Homo sapiens: one gene and its partners. The protein of the gene in region 2 interacts with the protein of the main gene of each other region in a biochemical or structural test. Each region holds a gene or a part of one and is shown on either strand. Other genes may lie near its edges. The genes, in order: TNRC6A, SNTG2, SLC2A1, TTC24, TRIM29, CNTNAP2 and RPS6KA3.

Region 1 (4,115 bases), on a different chromosome or scaffold from region 2:
TTCAACAAATGAAGCTGGAATTACTGGATAGTTACATAACAAGAATGACATTGGAGCCCTCATGCCATATGCAAAACTTAACTCAAAATGAATTACAGAACTAAACATTAAGAACTAAAACTATAAAATTATTAGAATACAAGTAAATCTTTGTGACCTTGGATTTGTTGCCAACAACACAAGTAACAGAAAAAAATACTGGTAAACTAGATTTACAAAATTTTAAATTTTTGTGCTCAAGGGACTTCATCAAGAAAGTGAAAAGAGGCTGCATGCGGTGGCTCATGCCTGTAATCCTAGCACTTTGGGAGGCAGAGGCGGGTGGATCATTTGAGGTCAGGAGTTCAAGGCTGGCCTGGCCAACATGGTGAAATTCTGTCTCTATTAAAAATACAAAAATTAGTTGGGCATAGTAGTGGGTGCCTGTAATCCCAGCTACTCAGGAGGCTGAGGGAGGAGAAACGCTTGAACCTGGCAGGTGGAGTTTGCAGTGAGCTGAGATCATGCCACTGCACTCCAGCCTGGGCGACAGAGCAAGACTCTGTCTCAAAAAAAAAAAAAAAAAAGTGAAAGGAAAAGCCACAAAATAGGAAAAAATACCTGTAAATCATATATCTAATAAGGGACTTGTATCTAAGCTATATAAAGACCTTTTTCAATGACAAAAAATATCACCTAATTTAAAGATGGGAGAAGAATCTGAATGGCCACTTCTCAGATCAGATATACGAATGGCCAATAAGGACATGAAAAGATGCTAATCATCATTAGCCATTAGGAAAATGTAAATCAAAACCATAATGAGATACCACTTTACATCTATTAGGATGGCTAAAATCAGAAACAAGAACCCTAACAAATGCTGGCAATGGAAAGGATGTGGAGAACCTAGTGCCTCCATACATTGCTGATGAGAATGTAGAACTGTGCAGCTGCTTTGCAAACAGTCGGGCAGTTCCTCAAAAAGTTAAACAGAGCCTGAGCAACACAGTGAAACCCCATCTCTACAAAATATAGAAAAAATTAGCCAGGCGTGGTGGCATGCACCTGCAGTCCCAGCTACCTGGGAGGCAGTGGTGAGAGGATGGCTTGAGCCTGGAAGGTGGGAGGTTGCAGTGAGCTGAGATTGCACCACTGAACGTCAGCCTGGGCAACAGAGGGAGTCCGTCTCAAAAACAAAACAAAACAACACAAACAAAAGTTAAACAAAGTTACCATATAACCCAGCAATTCCACCCCTAGGTATATAACCAATAGAATTGAAAATATATGTCCACACAAACATTTGTACATGAATGTTCATAGCAATATTATTCATAATAGCCCCAAAGTTAGAACAGCCCAAATGCCCATTAACTGATGAACGGACAAACAAAATGGGCAATAGCCATACAATGAAATTTATTTGCCCATAAAAAGGAATAAAGGATATATGCGACATGATGGACGAACCTTGAAAACACTACACTAAATAAGACAAGTCACGTACAAAAGTATCATATAGTATGATTCCACTTAAACGAAAATAGGTAAGTCCATAGAGTTATAATAGAAAGTAGATTAGTGGTTGCCAGAGGCTGGGTGGAAGGGACAAATGGGGAGTGGCTGCTATTATGGGGTTTTTGGGTGAAGGGGTGAAAATTCTAGAATTAGACAGTGGTGCTGATTGCACAACTCTGTGAATATACTAAAAACCATTAAATCATACACTTTGTGGACTTTAAAAGGGTGAATTTTATCATATGGGAATTTTATCTGAATAAAGCTGTTATTTAAAAGTTGAGAGAAACTGAAAGGTACATTCAGAGAAGGAAGAGTTAGGGACAGGGCAAAAGGTGGAAGGGACAGTGCTAAATTGATAAGCTGAGCAAAAAACAAGAGTCTGGGCTTTAATTCCAGAGTCACTGGGAAGGAGCCAACAAAGGTTTCTAAGAAATAGTGACTGACAGGCCTCAGAAACGTGGCTCGAGGACGATTAACCTGCAGCAGTGTAGAGAATGCACATTTTATGACCCTATCTTTGTAAGATTTTCACTATATGCCTCACATTGCAAAGAGATTCACAAGTGGAATAACATATAAAACATATTTCTCTTACATCAGTTATACAGTCAATTATCAAGGAATAAATGATATTTAAAAGGACATTTAAAATCAGCACACACTTAACTACCATTCTCTCCCGTCTGTGCACACATGTTTTAGGGAAACTTCAAAAGAATGGGAGAAAGAAGGGACCAAAGTCAACAAAACACAGACGTCATAACTCTAAAAATATTCAATATTATTGCAGCAAACTGCTCAATAAGTGCTCCCTGACTGAAAACCACTAATAAGAACAGCAAAACAACTGAGTTGGCTTAATCTTGTTTGTTATTATACAAAATCCAATCAGTCACTGTTTGCAGAAAATATCTTGTAAGGTTCAAAGTATAAAATTCTTCAACCAGGTTTCAATCTGTTTTGAACATTCCATTTGAAACGGGAAGTCAGCTGAGTCATCATCACATAATATACTACTGCTAAAAATTCAAAATGCTTTTCCCTAGTTACAAGAGTGGAAATGCTAGGATTTCTCCTTCATAGCCAACTCAAACACACAGAGTATGCAAATCATTTTTAAAATAAGACATCTTAAATAGGAAATTTAAACTATATTTATTTTCATGGGTGGCTTTTTTTTAAGATGGAAAGAAGCTATGCCTTAGTCGAATATTACTTCCTTTTGAATCTCAAACATCTTCCTCTTATTGATACTATTCAGCTCCTCTGACAACCTCCTCATAAAGAAGCAGTTTCTTAATCTTTGAGGAGTAATGACCCTTTGAGATCTAATGAGCACTAAAGACCATATCTGCTTTTGTTGTGGGGTTTTATTTTTATTTTTATTATTTTATTTTGGCATACATTCAATTTTGCAAACCACTTCATAACACCTGTGGTCCCTCTGTGGCATCGGGATGAGAACCCTTGGTCTGGTGGCACCGTGCCACTCTAATTTCAATGGGGCATTCTTTTAAGAAAGCGTATTACAAGCCCAGCCCCAATGTTTCATTTTCCTACCAGGGTTATCAGTTCATCACTGGTCAAAGCTGAAAACAAGCAACTTTTATGTCCCACAGTAAGGGAGCTACCTTTGGCATAAATCTTCATAAAAGCAGTAATCATTATGGCTGATCGATTTAAATACAAAGACCTGTAATTACTGTAACCTCAAATATTTAAAATTACATCTCGGTTTAAACCAATTGTTTGGCATTTCCTAAAATGAAAGAAACACCAAGTCAGTGTAGAAGTAAGAATATTGGATAACCTTTCGGTTAATTTACTTCAAAATGCTGTGGGGAGGGAATACTGAAGACAAACACATCATCACCTATGGGATACTCCTGCCAAAAAGGGTCAACCTGAACCTAATCATACAGACAAGACCCAAAAAATGCAAATTTCAGTCTGCAAAAACAACTAGACTGGACTATTTCAAAATGTCATTGTCAAGAGAGAAGCAGAAAAGGGCAGGAAAATGCTCCTAATGTAAGAGAAACTTCAGACACAACTAAATGCAACCCAGGATACAGCAATTGAGTGAAAGAACAAATACAACTTTAAAAAAAATTTTGAGAAAATTGGGAAAATCTGAATAGGGACCAGACAGAATTGTAAAGTTAAACTTCCTGTGGGTGATCATTTGATTGCTGTCAGGTAGAATGCCCTTATTCTGTGAGATACCTACTGCCATACTTTGGTGTGCAATGTCACGATAGAACAAATGTGGCAAAATATTAATAATCACTAAAACTAGGTAAAGAGATACAGGTATTAGTTGCAACATTTTTCCAATTTTGCTTAAGGTTAGAATGATTGATTATTTATTTGAGACAGAGTTTTGCTTTTGTGCCCAGGCTAGGCTGGAGTGCAATGGCGCAATTTCGGCTCACTGCAACCCTCGCCTCCCAGGTTCAAGCGATTCTCCTCCCTCACCCTCACAAGTAGCTGGGATTACAGGCATGTGCCACCACACCAGGCTAATTTTGGTATTTTTAGTAAAGATGGGGTTTCACCATGTTGGTCAGGCTGGTGTTGAACTCCTGACCTCCAGTGATCTGCCCACCTCG
Region 2 (4,115 bases):
ATCTCGGCTCACTGCAACCTCTGCCTCCTGGGTTCAGGAGATTCTCCTGCCGTAGCCTTCCGAGTAGCTGGAGCTACAGGTGTGTGCCACCATGCCCGGCTAATTTTTGTATTTTTCGTAGAGATGGGACTTCACCATGTTGGCCAGGCTGATTTCGAACTCCTGACCTCAAGTGATCCACCTACCTCAGTCTTCCAACGTCCTGTGATTATAGGCGTGAGCCACTGCGCCCGGCCAATATGCACTATTTTCTTAAGAAAAAGTCTATAAAAGTGTACATGACATTTCTCTTTTGCAAATAGGCATATGTAAAGTATGTTTTTAAAAAATATTGCATGACAGGGAAGAACTACTGAATTTGAGACGGTTGGTTGTTAATACTTTGCCATGATTGAGTTCTCAGCAAGTGGAGTGTCATGGAGCAGTGGAAGGGGACTATGTTCTCCCAAAGCTCCCCTGTCAATCAGAAGCACACAGGTGGTCCTAGAGAAGGGTGGATGCTGAGTGCAGAGGGTGCTGGGCTGCTCCAGCCTCACCCCATCAGGAGCTTTAAGTGCTCCATCCAAAGGGTCTTCGAAAGAATAACCAGTAAGAATCCTGCAGACAATAACTCCAGAATTTCAGGAGCACTGTTCTTTCCTTGACAAAGTGCTTTTCATGTTTCATCGAATTAGAAGTAGCTCCTGTTACCAAGGGAATTCGGGGTTTGGTCTTGGTCTCAGCGAGCCTGCTGACTGTACTGAGGCGCCTGAGGAAGTGGTGCAGTTGCCCCATGTCCTGGGTCCAGGGTAGAGCCCTGCTGAGCATCAGCCTCGAAACTCACGGAGGCAGGCCCGCTCCCGTCGCTGCGGGGCCTCCTGGACAGCTCTCTCCCTCCCCAGGTGGAATGCGTTCGAGGTGCTCGCCCTGGACGGAGTCAGCTCTGGGATCCTCCGGTTTTACACAGCCCAGGATGGCACCGACTGGCTGCGGGCGGTCTCAGCCAACATCAGGGAGCTGACACTTCAGAACGTGAGCACACGGTGTTTCTGAGTCTCTGCTGATGCTCATTCGTGCATGAAAAATAATGGAGACATCATGTTTCTGATGATTTATGATTAACCCGAAACAGAAAATCATGTACTTGTTTCAATGTGTCAAATCTATGTCTAAAAACATTAAAAATGAAGCCATCAGAATGTTTCCAAATCAAAGAGTAAGGCAATGTCTAACAGCTGAGAATTTCCCATCTGGTTTTGTCTTCCTCCTCCCCTCTGTCTGCCTCTGTCTCTCTCCCTCCCTTCCTCTCTCTTTCTCTCCACACACATATACAGAAATAGTTATATGTCATAATTTTATATTTTACCCAAATGCATTGATACAGTGTGACATTTTGAGTTGGGGAAACCTAATTGAGTTAAAAGTATAATTCTCCCAAACATTATGAAGATTTAGAAAAAGGCATAATTGAGCAAAAACATTACTTCTCAAATTTGTACTGCAGTCCCCCAGAAACGAAAAAGTATTCTGTCCCCTTAAGTGATGTTTGATATTAAAAGTCAACAGGATTTTAAAAATTAAAGAAATGAAAAGAGATGGGGTGGGAACGAAGACTTGATGACACGGGCGTTGCCTGGAGTGATGGGTGCCTGGACTCGGACATGGAGCCGTGGCCGCAGCCCTGGCAACTGTGGCAGGACTGGCCGTGCCTGGAGGCGGCCCTGGACCAGCCTTGCTGCCCTTGCTCCCTCTAAGCTGAGTTGCCCTGTAATTGCACTTCGATCCCTGCTCTGTTCCTTCGCAGCCTGGAGGCTGCAGAGGCTGGGTCCAGCTTGCAGACTGGCCAGGCGTGGCCCACCCTGCGGCCCTGCAGATGCACCCGCCCTGCCCCTGCCCTGCCCACCACCTCACGTCTCCCTTGCAACCTCCCTTCTTCCTGTGGCTGCAAAACAGAAGTTAACCTAACACTGGGGGAAGCAGCAATGTGTGACATTTCTCCTGTGAAGACCTCAGGGGCTTCCTTTCTGCAAGCAGAGAAGGAAGTACCAGGACCTTCCTAACATTGTAGTTTTCAAACGCAACACTTTAAATTCCAAAGTTATCTCAATAAATAGGGAAGAAAGGATGGTGCTTGACTTATATTTGCAGAAATGTTTGTGACGAGGAGCGCCCTTCAGTTCTGTCATTTCACAAATCAGCCCTCATAGGCAGGGCAGAGAAGTCAGACACCCCAATATTTCAGAACAGAAATGTGGACTCTGAGCTGCCTCCCGGCTGTGTGGCTGTGGGCTGTGGGAACATTATGATTCTGCACCTCCACTTCCTCGGTGAAATTTTGGAAAACAACATCTACCTCCATAGGTCATTGGGAGAACTAAATAAAAGAAAGAATATCAACTGTGATCACCGTAATTACCATCACAGTAATACTGACTCTCACAAGGTTATGTAGAGCAGAAATCATTTCCTCACTTTTCTCAGATATTGGAATTTAAGCACCTGCTCTTGAAGTGTAACTTCACTTACATAAATGCTGATATTTGAAAAAGAGGAATTGAAGCCTGCTAGTAAAGTTGTTTTCTACTGCTGCCATGTTTGTATTGACTCTGGCTAGGTCTTCAGATAGGAAATATGTCATTAAAGAGGCCTGTTTCCCAGGACAGAGCGTGGCTGATGACTTCCAGCTGTCACTCAGGTGAGCCATCCTGGTGTTGGTGGCTGTGGCCCTGACTCTTCTGCCTTCTCTCCACAGATGAAGATGGCGAACAAATGCTGCTCTCCTTCCGACCAGGTAGGGTTTGTATTTTCTGCTTCATGATGTAACACATCAGGTAGGGTTTGTATTTTCTGATTCATGATGTAACACATCTCGAAAAGCAGTCTCTGGTTTTTTGAAATTTGATTTGAAAATGTTGATAGGAAAACATTAGCACATTTCAGACTGCATTTGGTGGTCTCTGCCCTGCCTGTTAATTCTATAAAACTGCTCTTTCTGTGGGAATAGCATAGGTCATTCTGATCTCCTGTGTATAGATTATTTCTCTATTGGCAGTTATGTTTTGTAAAGAATCGTGATTTAAATGATGATTTAGATATGATTGTTTAAACTGAGAAGGGCTTTGAGATGACACACCTGTGTAATTTGAAATTTTAAGCATTATATTATTTTCTTAAATAAAATCCTTACTAGGAAAGCTTCATTCTCAGGAGGGCTTTGGCCCAGTGGGTGTTATTGCCAGTGGGTAGGATCCTGTCATCCCCAAATCCAGGCAGTTTGTTCACCTGGAGCCCAGAGCCCTTAACGTTGTCCTGGATTCAGGATAGCTACCTTTGTAGCCACCCTCAGGCCTGATTTTCTGCTCACTTCCCACGTCTATGAGTACTTAGGAAAACTCTATGGTAATCAAGCTGTTTCAATATCAGCCAAATCAGTTTTTAAGCCACTGTGTTATTCTTCTGTTTCCTTTATAATAAACTTATGATTTAACTTGTAATGTAAGGGAGTATGTTATTTATAGTTCATTCATTTTCTGGTTACATCTCTTAGGGGCGTAAGGAAGCATGCATCATAGCCTCAAGTTAAGAAAACTGAGAAAAACATGTTCGCTTTGCTTTAAATAGCGCACAAAAGACTTTAAATAGTGCTTAGCAAGAATATTTGAATTCACGATGGAGGACTTGAGAAGAGCAGGTCCTCTGCCTATGAAATATTTACTAAAACAATGGGAAAATAGGGCTGTGTTTTAAATTAAACCTCTCTAGTCAACATTTCTACATTAGAAAAGAAACACTAAGAATAAATGGTTCTTCTAACTTTTATCTCTTTTAATATTATTCTAAAATTACCATCAACTATTTTTGTTTACATAGATATTTTATGATTAATATTTCTATAAATTCTTCAAATTAATATAGGATTCATTTCATATTCTTATACATAAAATATCATTTCCCTACTATGTGTTTTTGAAACAGAAGTTCTGAAACTTTTCCACAAAGTACATATCTCTCTATGGTTCACACAGGAAACAGCCTTTATCAAGGCTGGTGGGACAGTGGGCCAAAGTTTTGACATGATCTCTATGAATAATTTACCATTTTGAAATTGCATCTTATTCACACACGCAAAATTAGCA
Region 3 (3,500 bases), on a different chromosome or scaffold from region 2:
AACAGAAGCTACAGAGGCCAGAGCAGAGCTATGCGAGAAGGCAGGAAGCCTGGGGATGGTCCTGGATTTGTTGTGTATCCAGCATTGGGCCTAAGTTTCCTCATCCGAACAAAATGATTTAAGTCCTGCAGGGTGGCTGCAAGTGTTGAGTCCACCCGCTGGGAGTGGTAATGTGGTGTGCATGTGGACGGTGCTAAGAGGCCCCATGGTCCCCTGTCTGTGCCTGCAGCACAGTCCGCCTGTGGCAGGATGCAGAACATTCCTGGGGGTGGGGTGGATTCAGGTTCTAAGGCGTGTGAGGTGCCCAGCTCAGGCTGGCACAGAGTAAGCGCTAAGCATACGGTTCTGCATATAACCATTCTTGAGGAGGCCAGGGTAGAAAATTTATGGGCTTTCCACTTGCTGCCTGTCTGGCCTTTCGGCAACCACCAAACTTTCCAAGCCCAGGTTGAGCTGTAAAATGACAGTCATGGTGCTTTCCTTGCCCAGAGGCTAAATAAACGAGTGCCTGTGTGTGAGTGCCAGGCACAGGGTTAGCACAGCGGTCACAGTCACAGGCCTGGGACTGAGGTTGATTCCTGGCTTCATCCTTTATCTGACAAGTTACTAACCTCACTGGGACTTAAGCTTCCTCCCCCATAAAATGGGAAGAACTGAACTACACCTCCAGTCGTGTGAACTGAATGAGGCAAGGCATGTTTCTGCGCCTCTATGGGGAGGACAGCACTACTTCCCGGGGTTGCTGTGAAGATGAATTGAGGCTACAGATGAAGATTGGAAAGGGTTAATATTAGGCAAAGCAATTCCTTAAGGAGGTGAGAGTTTGGGGTCTGGGACCAGAGGTGCTGCGCTGAGAATCCATCAAGCAGGGAGGAGCAAGTTCAAGAGAGGATGTGTGTGGTTTGGAAGGAGACAACTTCAGGAGCCAGAAAGTCAGACCCACAGCCAGGGAGAATGCAGCCACCAAAAGGCCTGCCAGCCTGGGGCTGAGACAGGCATTTTGGGATATGAAGCCCAGGCAAACTCTCCCGCATCCCTCACTCTCCAGAACCTAGCAACTCACCAGCAGTGCTAGCGCGATGGTCATGAGTATGGCACAACCCGCCATGCCAGCGAGGCCTATGAGGTGCAGGGTCCGCCGGCCTGCTCGCTCCACCACAAACAGCTGTGGGCAGAGACAGTGTCAGTGCCACCCCTGCCTAGTGCCCTTCTGAACCCACCCACCCAGAGGCCTTGCCTCAAGAGCTGAGAAAGTCACAGGGCACTGCAAAGACCAGTGGGGAAGATGGCACTGCCTCCTCCCTGGGGTTTGGCTGGGGGGGCCAGTAAGCAAAGACTCACCGACACGACAGTGAAGGCCGTGTTGACGATACCGGAGCCAATGGTGGCATACACAGGCTGCTGCACCCCCGCCTTCTCGAAGATGCTCGTGGAGTAATAGAAGACCTGCCAGACAAGAGAAACTGTTGGGGCCTACCTGGACATTGTGGCCCTTCCCTGCCTCTGTAGCAGTGGATGTGGGACCCAGGATGAGTAAAGAATGAAGGGGACAAATACTCAGGCAGAAGGGACACTGCACTGCAGTGACCTTACGGGCTTGGGGTCTAAAGGGAAACTTCTTCGGCAGAGGCGTATCTGTTGTTTCAAGTTTGGGACTTGTTCACCATGCACACTTGACCAGAGGGCTTGGCTGGGGCACAGGAAGGGTGGGTGGGGGCACTCACAGCGTTGATGCCAGACAGCTGCTGGGACAGCTGCAGCACCACAGCGATGAGGATGGGCTGGCGGTAGGCGGGGGAGCGGAACAGCTCCAGGATGGTGACCTTCTTCTCCCGCATCATCTGCCGACTCTCTTCCTTCATCTCCTGCAGGTCATGGGTCACGTCAGCTGTCCCGCGCAGCTTCTTTAGCACTGGGGGGACCGGAGGGAAGGTGAGGGTGGCTCAGAGTGGGAAGAAGGCCAGGGCTCAGGGAGTGGGGAGGAGGGCAGGGCCATGCCCGTACCACTCTTGGCCCGGTTCTCCTCGTTGCGGTTGATGAGCAGGAAGCGGGGACTCTCGGGGCAGAAGGGCAGCACGATGCACTGCAGCAGGGCCGGGATGAAGATGATGCTCAGCAGCAGGGGCCACAGGTCCTTGTTGCCCATGATGGAGTCCAGGCCGAACACCTGGGGGAAGCAGGGGCCGTGAGCGCCTCTGCCCTGACCCCCTTTCCCACCCCGTCCTGCCAGAGTGGCCTTCCCTACTTTGTGTCAGCTGCTGCTTCAGGGAAGGGCCCCAGTTCTAGAGGCTCTGCCACTAGCATGAGCCCTGTTTCTCAGTTTCCTCATCGGTCACATGGGAAAAGTAGGACCTACCCCACAGTGTTGCTGGGAGGACAAATGACAAGGCCACAGATGTGTCCAGCACAGAGAATGGGGGCTGCTACTCTGCCACAAGAGGGTTTTGGGGACAGGGAAGGGGAAGCCTCCTGGAGAGAGGGTACTGTGCATAACAGCCTGCGGCATGTTGGGGGAAGGCGGGCCCTGTGGTTGGAAGCCTAGAGTGAGAAGAAAGGGACTGAGAAGAGTCAAGTCATCTTGCTGTCAACTGGGAGGCCATGGTGCTGTGTTCTCTGGACCTGTGTACCATAGTTGTCCTCTGCAAGGCTGTGGGGGCTGGGCGGAAGAGAAACTCTGCCCTGCTGGGCACAGATCCGAGAGCCACTGAAGCTGTGGGCAGGGGCCGTGCCAGGCAGGTAGATCCTGCCCCAGCTTACCTGGGCGATGAGGATGCCGACGACGATGCCCAGCTGGTGCAGGGTGCCCAGGGCCCCACGAAGGGCTGTGGGTGACACTTCACCCACATACATGGGCACGAAGCCTGTGGTCAGGCCGCAGTACACACCGATGATGAAGCGGCCCAGGATCAGCATCTCAAAGGACTTGCCCAGTTTCGAGAAGCCCATGAGCACGGCGGACACGAAGGCCAGCAGGTTCATCATCAGCATTGAATTCCGCCTGGGGACGGGGTCACAGGTCAGGCCAGTGCCCACATTCCTTGGGCTCCGAGGGGCTGGGTCAGAGGTAATACCCTGGAACAGGCAGATAAGTCTCCCCTACCTCCCACCCCATCTGGGACTCCCTGGGCAGGAGGGCATGGGCCCTCCAAGGGCAGTGCCAGGACCTCTCCTACTTACCGGCCAAAGCGGTTAACGAAAAGGCCCACAGAGAAGGAGCCAATCATGCCCCCAACAGAAAAGATGGCCACTGAGAGGGACCAGAGCGTGGTGAGCGTGGTGGGCAGGATGCTCTCCCCATAGCGGTGGACCCATGTCTGGTTGTAGAACTCCTCGATCACCTGCAGGGGGAGATGCAGCCTGGGTGAGCAAGCCAGGGGCCAGGACCCAGTCTTCCTTTTCCTTTCCCCTTGCACCCCTCCCTAAGAGAGGGCCAGGGCCTGGCTCTGCCACAGATTCACTGCATGTTCTTGAGCCAAGTCCCTCTATTTTTGTGGGCCTCA
Region 4 (4,287 bases), on a different chromosome or scaffold from region 2:
GGCCATCCACCCTTAAGCCTTGGGCCCCTTTTGGAACCCCTTCTTAGTGTCTTAGTCCCAGTCCCATTCCCCGGCCCCAGGCACCCACCGTGTAGGTCAGCAGCCTTCTGGTGAAACTCCCGAGCTTCCTGATAGTTGCCGAGGGCATTGTGGGCCATCCCGAGGTTTCTTAGCACTGTGGCCTGCTCTCCTGGCACCCAGCACAGGGGCAGGGCCTGCAGGAAGGCCTCCACGGCCAGCGGGAACAGCTGGAGCTGGGAGTAGCCCAGGCCTAGATCGTTATAGAGGTGCCCTAGAGGGAATAGCCAGGGTCACTGGTAGCCAGACCAGATATAAATGAGGCTGGTACAGCCCCTATCGACTCCTCCAGGGTTCCCCAAACCCAGCCCTCTGAGTATCATCAGGCTCTGTGTCTCCCCAGATCCCATGCCTTCCCTGCCCGAAGGTCTCACCCAGCAGTCGCCTCTCAGTGCTCCTCTCGGCAAGCCTCCGGCTTTTCTCCAGCACCTGCACAACTTCCCCCACCCGATGCCGCCCACTCTTCAGCATACATCCTGCCGCAGCCCCCAGTGCCAGGGCTGCGGCCCGCAGCTGTCTCTCTTGAGCATAGGCCTGGCTTGCTTCCTGCAGGCAGTGGGCTGCTAGCTCAGGCTGTCCCAGAGCCTGGTAGCAGGCTCCCATTTTTGCCCAGGCTTCTCCCTGGTCACCCTGTGGCTGGTAGTGGCCCAGGGCCCTGTGGTACCAGGCCAAAGCTTGAGGCAGCTCGCCGAGGGCATGGTAGGCCAAAGCCACATTGAAACATTGGTCGCCGTGTCGCCTGCCCTGTGCCTTCTCTTCAGGGTGGGCTCGCAGGAGTAGCTCAAGGCCTCTGGCTGGGTCCCCAGTCTCCACATAGGCAGCCCCCAGGTTGAAGGCGCAGGCCTGGAGCACAGGGGTATCCCTGGTTTGTGGGGCCTTGGAGGCCAGAAGGAAGGCCCTCTGGAAGTTGTTCAAGGCTTCATGGTTCTGGCCAGCCTGAAGGGCCCCATGGCCAGCCCTGGTGAGGGCTTGGATGCTGGCTTCTTGCCGCAGCCACTTTCTTTTCTTCTTTTTCTTATTGGAGCTTGAGGGCTCAGGTTCTGGCCTCCGGGGCACATCCTCAGGGTTGGGGGAAGACATAGGGCTGACAAAGGGGAACAGAGGGCTCAGTATGTCAGCCTTGGCTTCCTCTAGATAGCAGGACCCCCTTAGGGCAATTCAGCTCTACCCCTGCCCTAGCATGACCCTCAGGGTTTCAAGGATTGCTCTCTGATCTCTCACTTTGTTTCTTCTGTCCCATTGGGCACCATATCCACTCTCACTCTAACTTCCTGACTAATTCTTAGTCCTCCTTCAAGACTCAAGTCAAGTAACAGCTTACTTCAGAACGCACCTTCTTCTCAACCAACTGGGTACTCCTGTGGTCCCATAGCACTTGATGCCTATGTCTTTTATAGCATTTATCACACTGGGTCAGAGCTGATGACTTTATTGTCTTCCCCCCACTACTAGATTTGGAGCAACTTGCAGGGTCTGGCACACAGTAGATTCTCAATAAATGTTTATGAAAGGAGATGAAAAAGTTCTGGAGATGGATAGTGGTGTTAATTGCACAATAATGTGAGTGTACTTAATGCCACTGAACTGCACATTTTAAAATGGTTAAAATGGTAAATTGTATGTTATGTATATGTTACCACCATACGAGTGTTTTTGGATTGAACAAATAGGCCAGGTGCGATGGCTCACACCAGTAATCCCAGCATTTTGGGAGGCTGAGGTGGGCAGATCACGAGGTCAAGAGATAGAGACCAGCCTGGCCAACATGGTAAAACCCCGTCTCTACTAAAAATACAAAAATTAGCCGGGCGTGGTGGCGGGCGCCTGTAATCCCAGCTACTCGGGAGGCTGAGGCAGGAGAATTGCTTGAACCCGGGAGGTGGAGGTTGCAGTGAGCTGAGATCGCGCCATTGCACTCCAGCCTGGGTGACAGAGAAACTCTGTCTCAAAAAAAGCTGCAAATAAATAGATGAAGGAACCGCATATGCAGGGCCTCTCCTCCATAACTTCCTTCACACTGTGCCTCCACAGACACCCCCCTCACTCATCATCTAGGTACTCCTGCTATCTAATCTCAAGACGTAGTTCAGGTCAGTTCAACAAGCACTCAGTGAGCCCCTGCTATGTGCTAGGAACCACACTAGGCACTGGGGACCCTAGGGTGAGGAGGCTCCTGAATTGGCAAGGAGCGAACCTCCAGGAGAGAAGGATTTTCTGAAAAGGAGTGTGGTGTGGGACAGAACATGCATTTACTGCCCCTTCCCTAGCTCAAGGGGAAGCTCTCTCTCCATTTCTTCCGCTTTCTGTCTGCTGGCTGGTTCTAGGCCCCCAGCCTCCTGCTCTGGTCTCCAGAGCCCTCTTAAACCTGAATACAAGCATCTCAGCAGCTTGTATATCCTGTTTGTATTTTTCCCCTTGAAGGGCAAAAGCTTTTTATGAACTCTCCTCCCAGGAGATGGGAAAAAGAGTGGAAAAGACCCAGGCCCTGGGCTCTTGACCCCTCCCATTTTATCCTTTTTTTCCCCTTTTTTAGGAGGGGCAGGCAGAGGAAAAGCAGTCTCTTTTAAAAGAAATTCCCCCTGCTTCTAAGAACACCCAGAAATCCTGCCTTTTCAAGGCCTTCCACTCCAGGGCATTCCTGACCACCCCCATCCAGTGTGGGGATCCCCACTGCAGGACACCTTACCTCCTTGGGTCTTCTCCGCAGCTGGCTCTCTGGAATGGCCCCTCTGGCTTGGGTTACCTCCCAAGCTGTTAGCTCAAAGCCCTAGAGGTTACTAGACAACCAGGTACCACCCTCCAGTCGTAGGGAATTATTTGAGTGACAGCTCTGAAGCCGTATCTTAGTGCTAAACCTCGGTAGTGCTGCAGACACACCCCCTCAAGTCCCTCACTTCAAGAAATGAATCAAGGCATCAGAGGGGCGCTTACTAGTTACACCCTCAGAAATCATCTACTTCATCCCCTCATTTCACAGAGGAAGGGACCAAGCCTCAGACAGCAGATGTGACTTAACTAAGGTCACAGAGCAGTCACGTAGCTGGGGTTAGACTCTATGTTTTTTTTTGAGATGGAGTCTCACTCTATCACCCAGGCTGGAGTGCAGTGGCGCCATCTCGGCTCACTGCAACCGCTGCCTCCCGGGCTCAAGTGATCAAGTGATTCTCCTGCCTCAGCCTCCTGAGGAGCTGGGATTACAGGTGCACGCCACCACAACCAGCTCATTTTTGTATTTTTAGTAGAGAAGGGGTTTCACCATGTTGGCCAGGCTGGTCTCGAACTCCTGACCTCAAGTGATCTGGCTGCCTTGGCCTCCCAAAGTGCTAGGATTACAGGTGTGAGCCACTGCACCCCGTCTTTTTTTTTTTTTTTTTTTTTTGAGACGGAATCTTGCTGTGTTGCCTAGGCTGGAGTGCAGTGGTGCAATCTCAGCTCACTGCAACCTCTGCCTCCTGGGTTCAAGCCGTTCTCCTGCCTCAGCCTCCTGAGTAGCTGGGATTACAGGTGCCTGCCATCACACCTGGCTAATTTTTGTATTTTTGTATAGACTGGGTTTCCCCATGTTGGCCAGGCTGGTCTTGAACTCCTGACCTCAGGTGATCTGCCTGCCTCTGCCTCCCAAAGTGCTAGGATTACAGGCATGAGCCACCACGCCCAGCCAACTCTAGGTTTTTTGATTCAAGGTGAGTAGCCTAGGGTCCCTTCCACTACACTGTGTGATTGCAAGTTGTTTTTTTTGTTTGTGTGTTTGTTTTTGAGACAGAATCTTGCTCTGTCATCTAGGCTGAAGTGCCTAGATGATCACAGCTCACTGCAGCCTCTACCTCCTGGGCTCAAGCGATCTTCCCACCTCAGCCTCCCAAGTAGCTGGGACCACAGGCATGTGCCACCACACCTGGCTAATAATAATAATAATAATAATTATTATTATTATTATTATTATTATTATTATTATTATAGAGATGGGGTTTTGATATGTTGCCCAGGATGGTCTCAAACTCCTGAGCTCAAATGATTCTCCTGCCTTGGCTTCCCGAAGTGTTGGGATTACAGACTGCACCCGGCATGACCTGTGATAGCAAGCTTTAATGGGGCTTGAGCTGTCCTGGAAGTGAACCCTTTCTCTCTCTCTCTCTCTCTCTCTCACACGCACACGCACGCGCACACACACACACACACACACACACTCTCTCTCTCTCTCTCTCTCTC
Region 5 (4,115 bases), on a different chromosome or scaffold from region 2:
ATGGCTGAAGCCTTTCTTTGAGGAAGATTGGGTCAATAATATGGGTTGCAGGTCAATGAATGGCATTGTCTGGTTAAAAGCCTGGAGTGGTAGGTGGGCATCAGGGCAAAATGCTACCTTCACCCTCCCATCCCCTCCCTGGCTTGAGGTCACAGCACATACAGCAGGTGGAAGAGCTGCAAAATCATCCTAATTATGGATGGGAAAACTGAGGCACAAAGGAATCATTTTTCCTCATGCAAAGTCACACAGCAAGTCAATGAGACAGCTGGGGCCAGCCCCCAGGGAAATTGATTCCCAGCTCAGCTTCTCTGCAGCCCAGCGCCTGTCTCCACTCTCCCAGTGCTGGGTGCCTGCTGGACACCAAAACCTTGCTCTGCCAGGGGCCTCAAAGTGCTGATGAGCCTTCTCTTCAGGGCCCCAGGCTCTGAGAGGGTGGAAAAGTATGTAGTAGGGAGGGGAAGGACTGAGTCTAGAACAGAAACCTTCTTTTTTCTCCCCATATCTGCTTTCTGCAGTCCTGCTGTTGCAATGCCCCTGAGTCCAGCTCCAAATTACATACACGATCACTTAGCTCCCATCCCCAGCAATTAAAGATCCTCTCCAATTAAACCAACCCCAGCCATTCTTTGTGGTCCAGGGCAAATCACCTCTCCTGCTCTGACCTCCAATTGCAAGGACAGCAAGAAACAAGGGCTCCGGCCCTGGTTCCAGCAGAGCTCCTGATGCCATCCACATGCCACGGCAGTGGCCGACTCCTGTAGCAGGGCCTAGAATGGACCTTCAGGAGCAAGGCATTCAGGCACATGGGGGCTCTGCATGTGAACTACAGTCCCCGATCACTGAGGTCTCAGTCAGGGTCAGATATGTCAGATCTAACGGGCACTGGGGATCATCTCAGTCCCCACATAATAAAAAGCAAGGAAGAGTCTCAGAGAGGGTATCTAATTCATCCAGGACCCCACCGTCAGCAGGTGGCCTGGACCCCAAAGCCATGCTTCCCTGTCATGCTGCTCTTCTGATATGCCTGGCCTCGGGTCATTAGATATTGACCCTAAATATATCTATTCCCGACTTTCCAGTCTCTCCCACCCCCACATTATCACCCCAATGGCCTCTATGCTGTCAGAACTGGAGAACTGCCCCCAGGGAGGTGGGACCCATCTCTAGGAGGAGGCCTGTCCTCCCACTGGGCTGTTTTACAATCCCAGAGCTGGCAGAACCCAAGCTGCCATTCCACTAGCATAGGCATCCAACAAGCATTTGCCAAATAAAAAAATCAAGGCTGCCCATTTTATAGATCAGAAAACTGAGGTCCAGAGAGTGTATGCTTAGCTAGTCCCCTGCCCATTAGCCCTGGGTCTCTACTACCCTCTGCTGTGTACAGGTATTCAGGCCACTGCTGCCTCCTTCTCCTCCACCCCATGGCCCAGAGAAGTCCTCCCACAGGCCCTGGAACCGATTGCCTCCAGGGAGCCCCCTTCAGTGCCCAGGTCTCTGGATGTGCCCAGGCCCTCCCGGCAGCACTTCCCTTACCAGCATAGTCTGCTTGCCAGATTTCCAAGTCTGGGGCTGGGCCTTGGGGCTTTGGCTCCGCATGAGGGAGGGATAGCCTGGGAAGACAAGAGATTCAGGTCAAAGGGAGCAGCGCTGGTGGTCAGGGGTGCCCGGGCCCAGAGCAGCACAGCTGCCTTCTCCAAAGTGACCACCAAGCATCATCCAGCCCATTACCAAATGCAGCCGTCTGAACACGCGTGCAGCAGCCAGGGTGCCGCAACCGAAAATCCTGGGGAGGCTGGCCAAAGGGAGGAGGCAGCAAAGCAGACAGAAGGAGGAGGAGCCGGCCAGGTGGGCTGGACCAGGCAGCAGGGGAGTGTTGCCCCCACATCCAGCGCAGCATCACACTGCTCTGCAGGGATTTCCACTCACCCACCCCGGAGGTTTACACCACGGGCCCTCCCCTTCCCAGAGCCCAGGAGCGCCACGCATAAGCATGGCCTGCCAGAGTTTCCCGGCAGGAGGCGCTCACTTGGACTCCCCTGTGCTGTTTGGACGATGCTTCCCATTCACGGAGCCCCACTTGTGCCAAGCACTGTGGAAGGGACTTTGTAGATGTCTCCTCACTGAGCCTGGCCCCGTATCTATGAGCTCAGCAGTCTGCCTGAGTTGCACAGCTCATAAGCAGCAAACCAGGTGCTGGGGAGCACCGCAGGCAGGCGGGGGACAGAGTGCCGGAAATCCAAAACCCAAATTCATGTTTTTTTCTCCCTGGCTTTGTGGCCCCTCCCCTGTTTCACTAGCCAGAGACTAGGGCCTAGAGAGGTGCAGGAATCTGTCATTGTGGCCGCCACCCAGGGTTAGGATGGCAAGCCCAAGAGGCCTGGAGCAGGTGCGCTCTCTGAGCTTGGTTGCAAAGATGCTAGTCTAAGACGGGGCCGCCTTGACTCCCTGCGCCTCAGCCCAGACAGACCTGAAAGGAGCTCTGGTTCACAGCACAGTGAAGGCACTCTCAGTGTCAGCCATCAGCCTGCAGGGACGCCTGGGAAGACACAGGCCATGACCTGGATGCTGAGGCCCTCAAGAAATAAGCAGGGTCTGTCCTGGGCCAGATCTCTGTCCAGTGAGAGGCTGCATGCGGTCTGTCTCGGGAAAGCCCCTCTCCTGCCCTGCTCTAAGCGAGGATGAGCAGGTCAGGCTCATGATGAGCACCGCCAGGCTGCCAGTTGGGTTGGCCCTTCCCAGGTTGGCACTGAGCAAGGAGGAGGGGGAGGAGACAGAGCAAAGAACCTGGGTCTCTTCCTGCATCTGAGGGTGGGAGCAGCCTTGGAAAGGGGGGTTCCAGGGATCCTGAGTGGAGATTAAGAGGGGTAATTCAGGCCTCATCTCTCAGTTCCCAGAAAGAAAATCCCATGCCAGCCATGAGAGAGGGGAGAATGGAAACAGGGGTGGGGTCAGGGTGGCCCAAGACACCCGCCTTGTGCAGCAGGCAGAAGTCCAGATAGAGAGTATGCTGGGGTGGCAGGTGGGGCATGCATCCCTCTCCAGGGAGCTCTGGGGAGAAGGGACCGGCACACCCTAGAAGTGGCAGAGAGCCCCCCATGTCCCACCTGCCCCGCTGTGGGAGAGAAAAGGGGAGGGATGGAAAATGGGCAGATACCGGGATTATTTTTAGACAGCCCACTGCGACCCAGTGGTTTGGAAAACTCTGCAGTGGCCTGTCCCAAGGTGGTGAACTGATAAGGGGTTTTCCCAGTGCCTGCTGGGAGAGAGAGAGGCATTAGTGGCACAGCGCTGGTCCCAGAGGGGCCAAAAGGACCCACACCTCATTCTGGGGGCTGCTCTGAATCACACCTGAGAGCGGCCACCTCCCCTGCCAGGTGCTCTGTGGGCCAGGCTTGAGCAGAGAGCAGAAAGGCGCCTGCTAGAAGCCAAACAGGCCAAGGCAAGTCCTGGAGCTCCCCAGGCCCGGATCAGAGCTAAGACATGCCCGGGGCTCCTGCAGGCTGGGACCCTCCACCCATAGTCCTGTCTCCTCCCTCTTGCCGGCAGCTCCAAGAATCCCTGTCCTGGGTATAGTATAGGACCCTGGGCCGGAAGGGACAACTGAGTGATGAGGCCTCAGAGACCACTGTTCAGGGGTCTCTCTGCCCTGCATAGCCCCTTTCCCTCTCCTGAGCCCACCCAATGTGCTGATCTTGACTTCCAGGCCAGATGTTTGGGGTGCCAGAAGAGAGACAGGGTTACTCCCACCACAGCCATTAGAGCTGTCCCTGGGATCTTTCAGGAGATACATGAGGGTCTGGGGCCCATAGCCAGAGTCTGGTTCAAGCCTGCCCCCTCAGGATGCCCCCAACCCCAGGGGACAGGAGGCGTCAATCACTCTGCCTTGTCAGAGTGCTGGGAGCACCACAGGCAGGCGGGGGACAGAGTGCAGGAAAAGAGGATCAGCCTTGGGGGGACTTAGGGTCGTCTGGTCCTGCCTTTCCCAAAGGGGCGCCTGCAGGATTGGATCTGCAGGATGCTGGCAGGTGCCCCATGGCCACAGGACCCTAGAGCCAGCCAACGCTGGGAGTTAAATAAACTCTGCAGTAGGAGAAGCAGCATCCTGAGGATCA
Region 6 (3,464 bases), on a different chromosome or scaffold from region 2:
GGTTTTTATTTTCTCTGTGATTCCTTATGTAAAGGCATGTACTTAACCATAAATCCCACCCTTAGGTCAAAACAACTCTGATGTTATCATACTTACTGTAAACCCTACCCTTAAGCAATTGTCTTACACATCCCTTCTTAAGTCTGTAGACCCTTTCCCTATGGTGGATAAGCCCTGGGTCCAGGGTGTGGGGGGCATGGGGGGGTAACAGTGCAGGCATTCATCATCTGTCTAGTGGCTGCCTGAGACATGGCCTCTGTTTGTAATTCCCTATGAAATGTTTCTTTCTGAGAAATTGGAATTCTCAGCCTCTTTCTTTGGCCTCTCAGCTTCCTTGGTTTGCAGGGGTGGTTTGCATAGAGCTGCTCGCTGCAGAACAACTAGCAAGTGAGAGTAATAACTTAGCTCTAAAAGCACACGGAGTGCATTTAGGAAGCTTCGCACCTCCGATGCATGCCGAGTCCTTGCTGTCTAGTTCCCTGGCTTGGATCCATGTGCCCACTATCCAGTGTTACTCCCTCATTCCAAATAAGGATCAGAATATATTCTGGAGATAACTGAACTCGAACCACATTTTATCAAGATGGGTGTAAACTAACCAAAGTCAATGTCTACTAAGCCACTTTAAGAAAAACTCCTCTTTTAACGGGGAGCTATTTGTGGTAGGAGGTTAACCATGGACGTACCCAAATCAGACCTTTTAGGAGTGACTATATCTCCACAACTTGTGGAAAGACGATATTCTCAGTAGGCTTATATTTCAGTGCTTGGAACTTAACTTTTGCTGAAGGTTGAAAATTGCTCTTAAGAGAGACAAGTGGTACAAAACACGAAGAATCGCTTTTAGGATAATTAAAACTACTTTGAATTTTTTATTTATCAATCTGGTTTCTAATATAATTTTAGTTAAATGAAAGACATTCACAAAGAATATTAGGCATACGTACATAATTTCCTTCTTTCATTCTAGTTTACATGCTGTTGCTTTTAGAGAGTGAAATTTTGTGTTATTTCACAGGGGATGGAATCCTGTTTGACTTTACAGAAAGAATATTTAGCCCAGCTTTTCACAGCACTAACCTCTGCAGTCACCACGCTCACTGAAAAAATTTAAAAAACCTGACAAAATAAAACTTAGTAAAATCTAGAACTGTTTCTTGGCCTACTTGAGAGGAACTTCCATATTTTCACAGCCATCTCCGAAAGCAGCAGTTGCTGTAAATTAACTGAGACTTGGAAATGGTGCAGACTGTCTTGGTAGAGCTGTTCTTATAGCACAATTTTATCTGGAAAATAAACTTGTAAATGCGTGCTGTATATTAATACATGTGTGCCCATATTTATTTTTATTATCTCCTGCCAGTCTTTGCTCAATGGGAGATGACAGACCAACTTCTCAACGTGATTTCCCCATTTCATTGAATGACATTTATATGCCACTTATGAAAAAAAATACTGCTGTGAAAGAAATGTACTTTAAAGTTTGCAGCACTACCATGCAGGGTACATGGAGAATAGGCATATAGCCACTAGGCTACATGAACACGTCACGTTTGTATTTTGTGTTGGCCTATGTATAAGCCAATCTAGCATGTTTGAGGGCATGTGTGAGAGTAGGTAAGGGAGCTGTAAGTTACATTCAGGTGGGAATTTAGGGCTTTCTGCACAAAAAATTCTAATTTCTCTGTCCTTTTGCTATGTTGCATCTCCCAGTGTTGACAGGTTAGTCTGCATGATTAATAACTGAGCAGCTGTAGAGCCATGCCAGTAAGTCTCCAATTCCTGAACGTGGCCACATTTGTCTTTTGATGTGACTTTCAACCACAAGCCACAAAGTAAGTCTTTCACTAGGCTCCGTTGACTTCAGTCTTTATATAAGGGTTTCAAGGTATTTTGCAGTCAAGAATCAATGGCACCTCGCAACTGTCTTATGAAGTAGGTAAAACAGCTCCATCTTAAATACGGGACAAAAGTTCGAGGACTTGACCAAGGTCACACAGGGAGGGTCCCACCAAGGCAGGGAGAGAGAAAGGGGATGCTGTCAGCTAATTCTCATGGTCCACTCTTAACCAAAACATCATTTAAAAAATGGGGCTGGCTCGGCACGGTGGCTCACACCTGTAATCCCAGCAATTTGCAAGGCCGAGGTGGACGGATCACTTGAGGTCAGGAGTTCGAGACCACCCTGGCCAACATGGTGAAACCTGGCTTCTACTAATAATACAAAAAAAAAAAAAAATTAGCTGGGTGTGATGGCGGGTGCCTGTAATCCCAGCTACTTGGGAGGCTGAGGCAGGAGAATCGCCTCAATGTGGGAGGAGGAGGAGGTTGCAGTGAGCCCGAGATTGCGCCAGTGCACTCCAGCCTGGGGGACAGAGCAAGACTCCGTCTCAAAACAAAACAAAAAACAACAAAAAAAAGCGGGGCGGGGGTAGGAGCCATTGGTTCTTAGCTGAAGTCAGCTGGGGACATTGTTACTGTTTGTTTCGCACTGGTTTAGGATCAGGTGGTTCTACTGGGACTAGCAATTTAGGACCTATCTTTGGCTGGCTTACTTGAATTCAATTTAATAATTGCTGCCCTTTTTTTGGGAAAATTGCTCAACAGGGTGGTGAAAAGAAAAAATGGGGGGTTTCAAATTCAGTGTTGTTTGGAGGCATGAGACATAAACGGGCCATTAAAACGTTTACTGCGTAAGAGCAGGGTATAATGTGGTGAGGAGAGGAAGAGAGAAAAAAGTAGGATAGAAAAGAACAGATTCCATCATAGAAGGAAAGAAAAGCTTCTTGACACAACCTGAACACTTGCATGTTCAAGTCCCACAGCTGTGTGCTTGTTCCTGAAGTGCTTCCAATGGCTTCGCCTGTGCCCAGCTCTCAGCCTGCATATGGTGGCCGCTCAGCAGATTTTCAAAAGTAACATTAAGACAGACTCTTTGGCTCATGCCAATGCTTTTTCTTGTGCCTCTGAATTCCTGCTCTTGTTAGTAAAGGATGCTTGTTTGTCAAATGCAGGGCAGTAGGACATTTTCTAGGAATGGCTCTCTAAATTCTTGTTTTCAGCTCTTTAATGAAAACTTTCATGTAACAAGTCTCTTTTTTTGAGCAGGTGGTTGAAAGCCACAAGGGGAAATACATTTTTAAATATTAAGAAGGGCCAGAAAATAATTTAACAACAAAATAGCTTTTTCAACCTCCTGGACCAGCTTTCTTGAGCTCTAGGGAATATGCTATTTTGAGAGCTTAGGATCTCACTAACCTTGCATTCATTCAAAGTCATCTCCTAGCTTTTTTCAAAACATCGACATTTGCTTCATACACAGAAGATGTTTCCTGCACAACTTTAAATCAGCCACCAACTTTCCCTGAAACTTTAAAACAGTCTATTTTTTGTCGTTGTTGTTGTCTATACATATTATTTAAAGAGGCTACTACCAGCATACTTGTGCTTGCTTGATAATGTAT
Region 7 (4,115 bases), on a different chromosome or scaffold from region 2:
ACAGCCCTGTGAAGTGACCTCAGTGAGATATTTGGTACCATGGTGTAAGCTGATAGCACAAGTTCTGGCGACAGGTAGCACGTATCTGAGAGACACCTGCAAGCACACACTGTCCCAGCTGGTACCCATAATGCTGCTGTTCCTGCTGCTGCTCCTGCTTTCCTCTCTTCTCGCTTTAAATGATTGTTAGCAAGTTAGATTTTCCTGGAGCTTCGGAAGAAATGAAAATGGAAACATGATGAAGATATAGTCACTGAATCAATGAGAAAAATAATGAACATATGAATACCACCTAAAAATACACTGAATAAAGTACACCATATAGCATTATTTTTATAGGAAATATTTCATGTCCCTTAAATATTCTTTGTTAGTTATAGGGATGGACAGTTTATGTTAAGCACTTAGCTTAAACAATCCGTTTATATTAGCACTGTATCCCTTGTGCCATCCAACATTTTGTATGTTTTTGTAAACAGTTCATATACAGTACATTTCTGTACTGCTTTCTTTAATGTATACATGCCTTGTTTAACTTGGAATCTATTATTATTAATCAATTGACTATTAAATCTGGTTAAATAGTTCACCTGGATTAACAGTATTGTTGGACAGTCCTAAAAATGGCCAGATTGTGGAACAGCTGTTGAATGTAATACTTCCAAAATGTACATATCTTTCCCCACGTCTGTTTCACTGGTTCGTTCATTTGTTTGTTTCTTAAAGTCAGGTGCTCTGTCAGACTAACCTAGAGAGCTGTTATGGTAGAGAAAGTTATCATATGTGTGTGGCATGAAATCAAGAATACACCTATGAAGTTAGTCCATATACTTTGCAACTCCTTAGAGTACTTTTTTCCTTAATTAAGGAAGTAGTCCTTGCACTTCTAATCTTACATAGCATCCATACTTAGAATTTGGCATATCATCTGGGATTTTGCCAATATACGTCAAAGCCCTTTAAGAGTCATGGTAAGGAGATGGGTGAAGGAAAATTTAGCAACAGGTAATTGAAGTCCTATTGGATATTTCATGTTTAAATAGATATTCTATATTAAACACTAATTTAAATGTAATAAAGGCCAAAGGCCTCTGTATGAAATTGGATTTAAACTTTCTTATTTTAGGGAATAAAACATTATTGATCAAACAGTATCTGTTCTAACCTAAAATTATAGGTAGGGCAGGCTAAGTGAACAGCATTGAGTATTTTCTGAATCCCTCATGATAATTTATAGCCACATACTGCTTCCTTTGACTTCAGGAATGATCAGTTTTCATAATGGCCACTGGGCCTGCTTAGATTGCAGTATTCATTATCTGCATCTAATTTGGTAGTTTCCACAATCGTATTTGATGAAAGAAACTTCAGTCCCCATTATTACCTGTGTCTTTGCCAAGCTGCCTAGCATACATCAGTATGTAATGTAAAAGACATATGAGCAAGAAAAAAGTGATTTAACTTACCTCATCAAGAATGTGCCCCTACAGGCCGGGCGCAGTGGCTCACGCCTGTAATCCCAGCATTTTGGGAGGCCGAGGCAGGTGGATCACCTGAGGTCAGGAGTTTGAGACCAGCCTGGCCAACATGGTGAAACCCCGTCTCTACTAAAAAATACAAAAATTAGCTGGGCATGGTGGCGTGCACCTGTAATCCTAGCTACTCAGGAGGCTGAGGCAGGAGAATCGCTTGAACCTGGGAGGTGGTGGTTGCAGTGAGCCAAGATCACACCATTGCACTCCAGCCTGGGTGACAGAGTGAGACTCTGTCTCAAGAAGGAAAAAAAAAAAAAAGAATGTACTCATACAGATTTTTGTTAGTCATCATGTAATAAGCCATTTATATCAGAAACCTTTTTTCCTGCCACAGAAGCTTTAAATTTTCCCCTAAGAGTACAAAGCCAAGAGAGTGTGGTTTATCTAAATGTCCTGAAATCCACTTGTCATTCCTTAATTTCTCCTCTATGCAATTAAAGAGAAAGGGGAAATCTATAACATTTCTTTTGCCCAAGTGACACAAAAATGATTACTGCATAGAAATCAAATGTAAGTTTAGCTTCTAAATGAAATAATATATAGGAGGGATATCAGAATGTCTAGATAGAGAAAGTATTTTCAAATTCTTGAATATATGGATGCTATTAAAAGCTGCTTTCCATTGCCTGGAAAGAGAGCTTTTTTCCCTCCTCTATTCAGTGTTTCAAACTTTGGTCATCTCAAATTATTGTCACTTTTAAAATGTTAATGTCATTCTGAGCAGAAATAGATATATTTTCAGATTTTTTTACACTGATGCTACTCCGTAATTGCTTAGGAGTATTGTCCATCATAGTATTTTAGAACTAGAAGTAAACACATAAATCCTTATAAATTACCCAATCCAACTTTCTCATATTGCATGTAGAGAACCTGAGACACATATCAAAGTCTAGAATCCTTAACTTCTCCCCATTTTGTTTTTTTCCGCCTCATCACACCATGCTGCCTTTCCCTCATATGATCACCAACCAGTAGCTGAGTTCAAAAACTACATATTTCTTGGGCAGTCCTCTACTGGTATGTGATGCCAACTTTTATTTCTTTCGAAGATAATTGCCTTCTTTGCCTAGCCAAGCAGCCAATTTTATTGGAGAAAAGCAAGTTATATGTTCACAAAATGGAAGGCTTTCTACCTAAATTTATTTCATCTGTGGTCCTCTTATTCTCTTCCATTGCTTTTGACATACAGTGGAAAAACTTGGCCAACGATGTGCTCTAAATATAGTGCTTGTGTTGGGTTAACTTTTCCATTAATTTCTCAACATCAATTATTCAGGCCCCTACAGTTGTGGTATTGAGGCCCCTAAAGGCTTCTGCCTTTCACCAATTAGTGCTGCCAGTTACTGAGGCTTCTCCCAAAAGGTATCAGTCCAGTCTTAAAGATATTTCATTGTGAAAGAAGAAACTAAACTATCAGGCCTCTTTTACAAAATGAGAGATTGAATTTAAGCTTGTCAAGCACGTACTGGAAGGTATGAATTACACTACCATGTGTTTTGTATCTTCCCTTTCAAGTGATGATGTTAAATGAAGGTAAGTTTTTCATCCTTTTTTAATTTTTGTTTTTTATAAATCATTTCAGCTTTTTCTGGTTTATAGAGGTGTCTTATTTCTAATGCAACAGACCCCCAACTTTAACAGATTTGATATGGATGCATTTATTCACAAGCAACCCCAAAAGTCCAAAAATGTAATAATTTTGACAAGGCCCAAAGTTGAGATGCTATGAAGCTTGTGTGTGTGAAAAGTCAGTTATGATTGTCTGGAGAGAAGCTGTGGTGTGTATGCTGTAGAGTTTCCACATTTCACATGCAGTGTACTCCAAAAAGCGGGTTTGGGTCAACCATTTCCCATCTCTTTTTAAGAAGTGACTGCTGTTGGGGCCAGGGGACATCATGGGAGGTGGGGCTGTCCAGTTAGCTGTGCCCTGCACCTTCAGCCCAGGAAAGATTTGAACAGAGCAAAGGCTTCAAGAGAGGGCAGAATGTATTCGGCAGAAAAGGGACTCAGGTAAGCCCAGCCTGGGATGAGAGCAGAAAAGCATTCAAGATTTGCAGGCCTTGCTATGGATGCGCTTAATCACCATGGAGGCCAGCAATACCCATCTCAGCATGGCTTTGATATTCTCTACTTCCTGGCCTTTAAAAATGACCTATAATTTTTCAGTTTGCTTTACTATATTTTATAAAGAAAATTCTATCTTATGGTTGATTGAGCATTGAGACTTATGAAGGCATTAGGATAGATAGCTCAGGAATGTAAAGGTTCAGAAAAGGTCTGTTTTCTCAGATTAACAAATATGATGGATTCCATGGCTGACCTTGGTGCTTAAACCAGGAGGTTTCAATCTAGTCCTAGAGTTGTGTCCCTCTGAAAGGCCCAATGCCATGTAACTAACTTTAAACTGGATATATACTTTGAGCCTTACTTAATTCACAGATAAGTTGACTTAACTCAGTATTTTTATTTCAATTAATGAAAACAGTCCTCTTTTCAACCCCAGGTTGCTTACATTTTGCTGGTCTCCCCAAGTGACCATTGGTGGAGACCAATTAATGAAGGAATGAAATTCACTTT

What was found.
Region 1: the proteins of SNTG2 (region 2) and TNRC6A interact in a test that uses a peptide from one of them, tested with the Homo sapiens proteins (one large-scale study listed by IntAct).
Region 3: the proteins of SNTG2 (region 2) and SLC2A1 interact in a test that uses a peptide from one of them, tested with the Homo sapiens proteins (one large-scale study listed by IntAct).
Region 4: the proteins of SNTG2 (region 2) and TTC24 interact in a test that uses a peptide from one of them, tested with the Homo sapiens proteins (one large-scale study listed by IntAct).
Region 5: the proteins of SNTG2 (region 2) and TRIM29 interact in a test that uses a peptide from one of them, tested with the Homo sapiens proteins (one large-scale study listed by IntAct).
Region 6: the proteins of SNTG2 (region 2) and CNTNAP2 interact in a test that uses a peptide from one of them, tested with the Homo sapiens proteins (one large-scale study listed by IntAct).
Region 7: the proteins of SNTG2 (region 2) and RPS6KA3 interact in a test that uses a peptide from one of them, tested with the Homo sapiens proteins (one large-scale study listed by IntAct).

What each region holds. Positions count from the first base shown.
Region 1 is NC_000016.10:24,735,930-24,740,044, reverse strand, and holds part of TNRC6A (trinucleotide repeat-containing gene 6A protein), read right to left. Parts: intron 1-4,115.
Region 2 is NC_000002.12:1,237,007-1,241,121, forward strand, and holds part of SNTG2 (gamma-2-syntrophin), read left to right. Parts: intron 1-881; coding exon 882-1,011; intron 1,012-2,731; coding exon 2,732-2,770; intron 2,771-4,115. UniProt on the Homo sapiens protein: Adapter protein that binds to and probably organizes the subcellular localization of a variety of proteins. May link various receptors to the actin cytoskeleton and the dystrophin glycoprotein complex.
Region 3 is NC_000001.11:42,927,869-42,931,368, forward strand, and holds part of SLC2A1 (solute carrier family 2, facilitated glucose transporter member 1), read right to left. Parts: intron 3,339-3,500; coding exon 3,178-3,338; intron 2,999-3,177; coding exon 2,758-2,998; intron 2,168-2,757; coding exon 2,005-2,167; intron 1,913-2,004; coding exon 1,725-1,912; intron 1,447-1,724; coding exon 1,342-1,446; intron 1,166-1,341; coding exon 1,064-1,165; intron 1-1,063. UniProt on the Homo sapiens protein: Facilitative glucose transporter, which is responsible for constitutive or basal glucose uptake. Has a very broad substrate specificity; can transport a wide range of aldoses including both pentoses and hexoses.
Region 4 is NC_000001.11:156,578,236-156,582,522, reverse strand, and holds the start of TTC24 (tetratricopeptide repeat protein 24), read right to left. Parts: upstream 2,801-4,287; 5' UTR 2,765-2,800; intron 1,163-2,764; 5' UTR 1,159-1,162; coding exon 453-1,158; intron 293-452; coding exon 89-292; intron 1-88.
Region 5 is NC_000011.10:120,113,802-120,117,916, forward strand, and holds part of TRIM29 (tripartite motif-containing protein 29), read right to left. Parts: intron 3,260-4,115; coding exon of another isoform or gene 3,158-3,259; intron 1,614-3,157; coding exon 1,537-1,613; intron 1-1,536.
Region 6 is NC_000007.14:148,418,376-148,421,839, reverse strand, and holds the end of CNTNAP2 (contactin-associated protein-like 2 precursor), read right to left. Parts: 3' UTR 842-3,464; downstream 1-841. UniProt on the Homo sapiens protein: Required for gap junction formation. Required, with CNTNAP1, for radial and longitudinal organization of myelinated axons.
Region 7 is NC_000023.11:20,151,295-20,155,409, reverse strand, and holds part of RPS6KA3 (ribosomal protein S6 kinase alpha-3), read left to right. Parts: coding exon 1-12; 3' UTR 13-4,041; coding exon of another isoform or gene 4,042-4,073; 3' UTR 4,074-4,115. UniProt on the Homo sapiens protein: Serine/threonine-protein kinase that acts downstream of ERK (MAPK1/ERK2 and MAPK3/ERK1) signaling and mediates mitogenic and stress-induced activation of the transcription factors CREB1, ETV1/ER81 and NR4A1/NUR77, regulates translation through RPS6 and EIF4B phosphorylation, and mediates cellular proliferation, survival, and differentiation by modulating mTOR signaling and repressing pro-apoptotic function of BAD and DAPK1.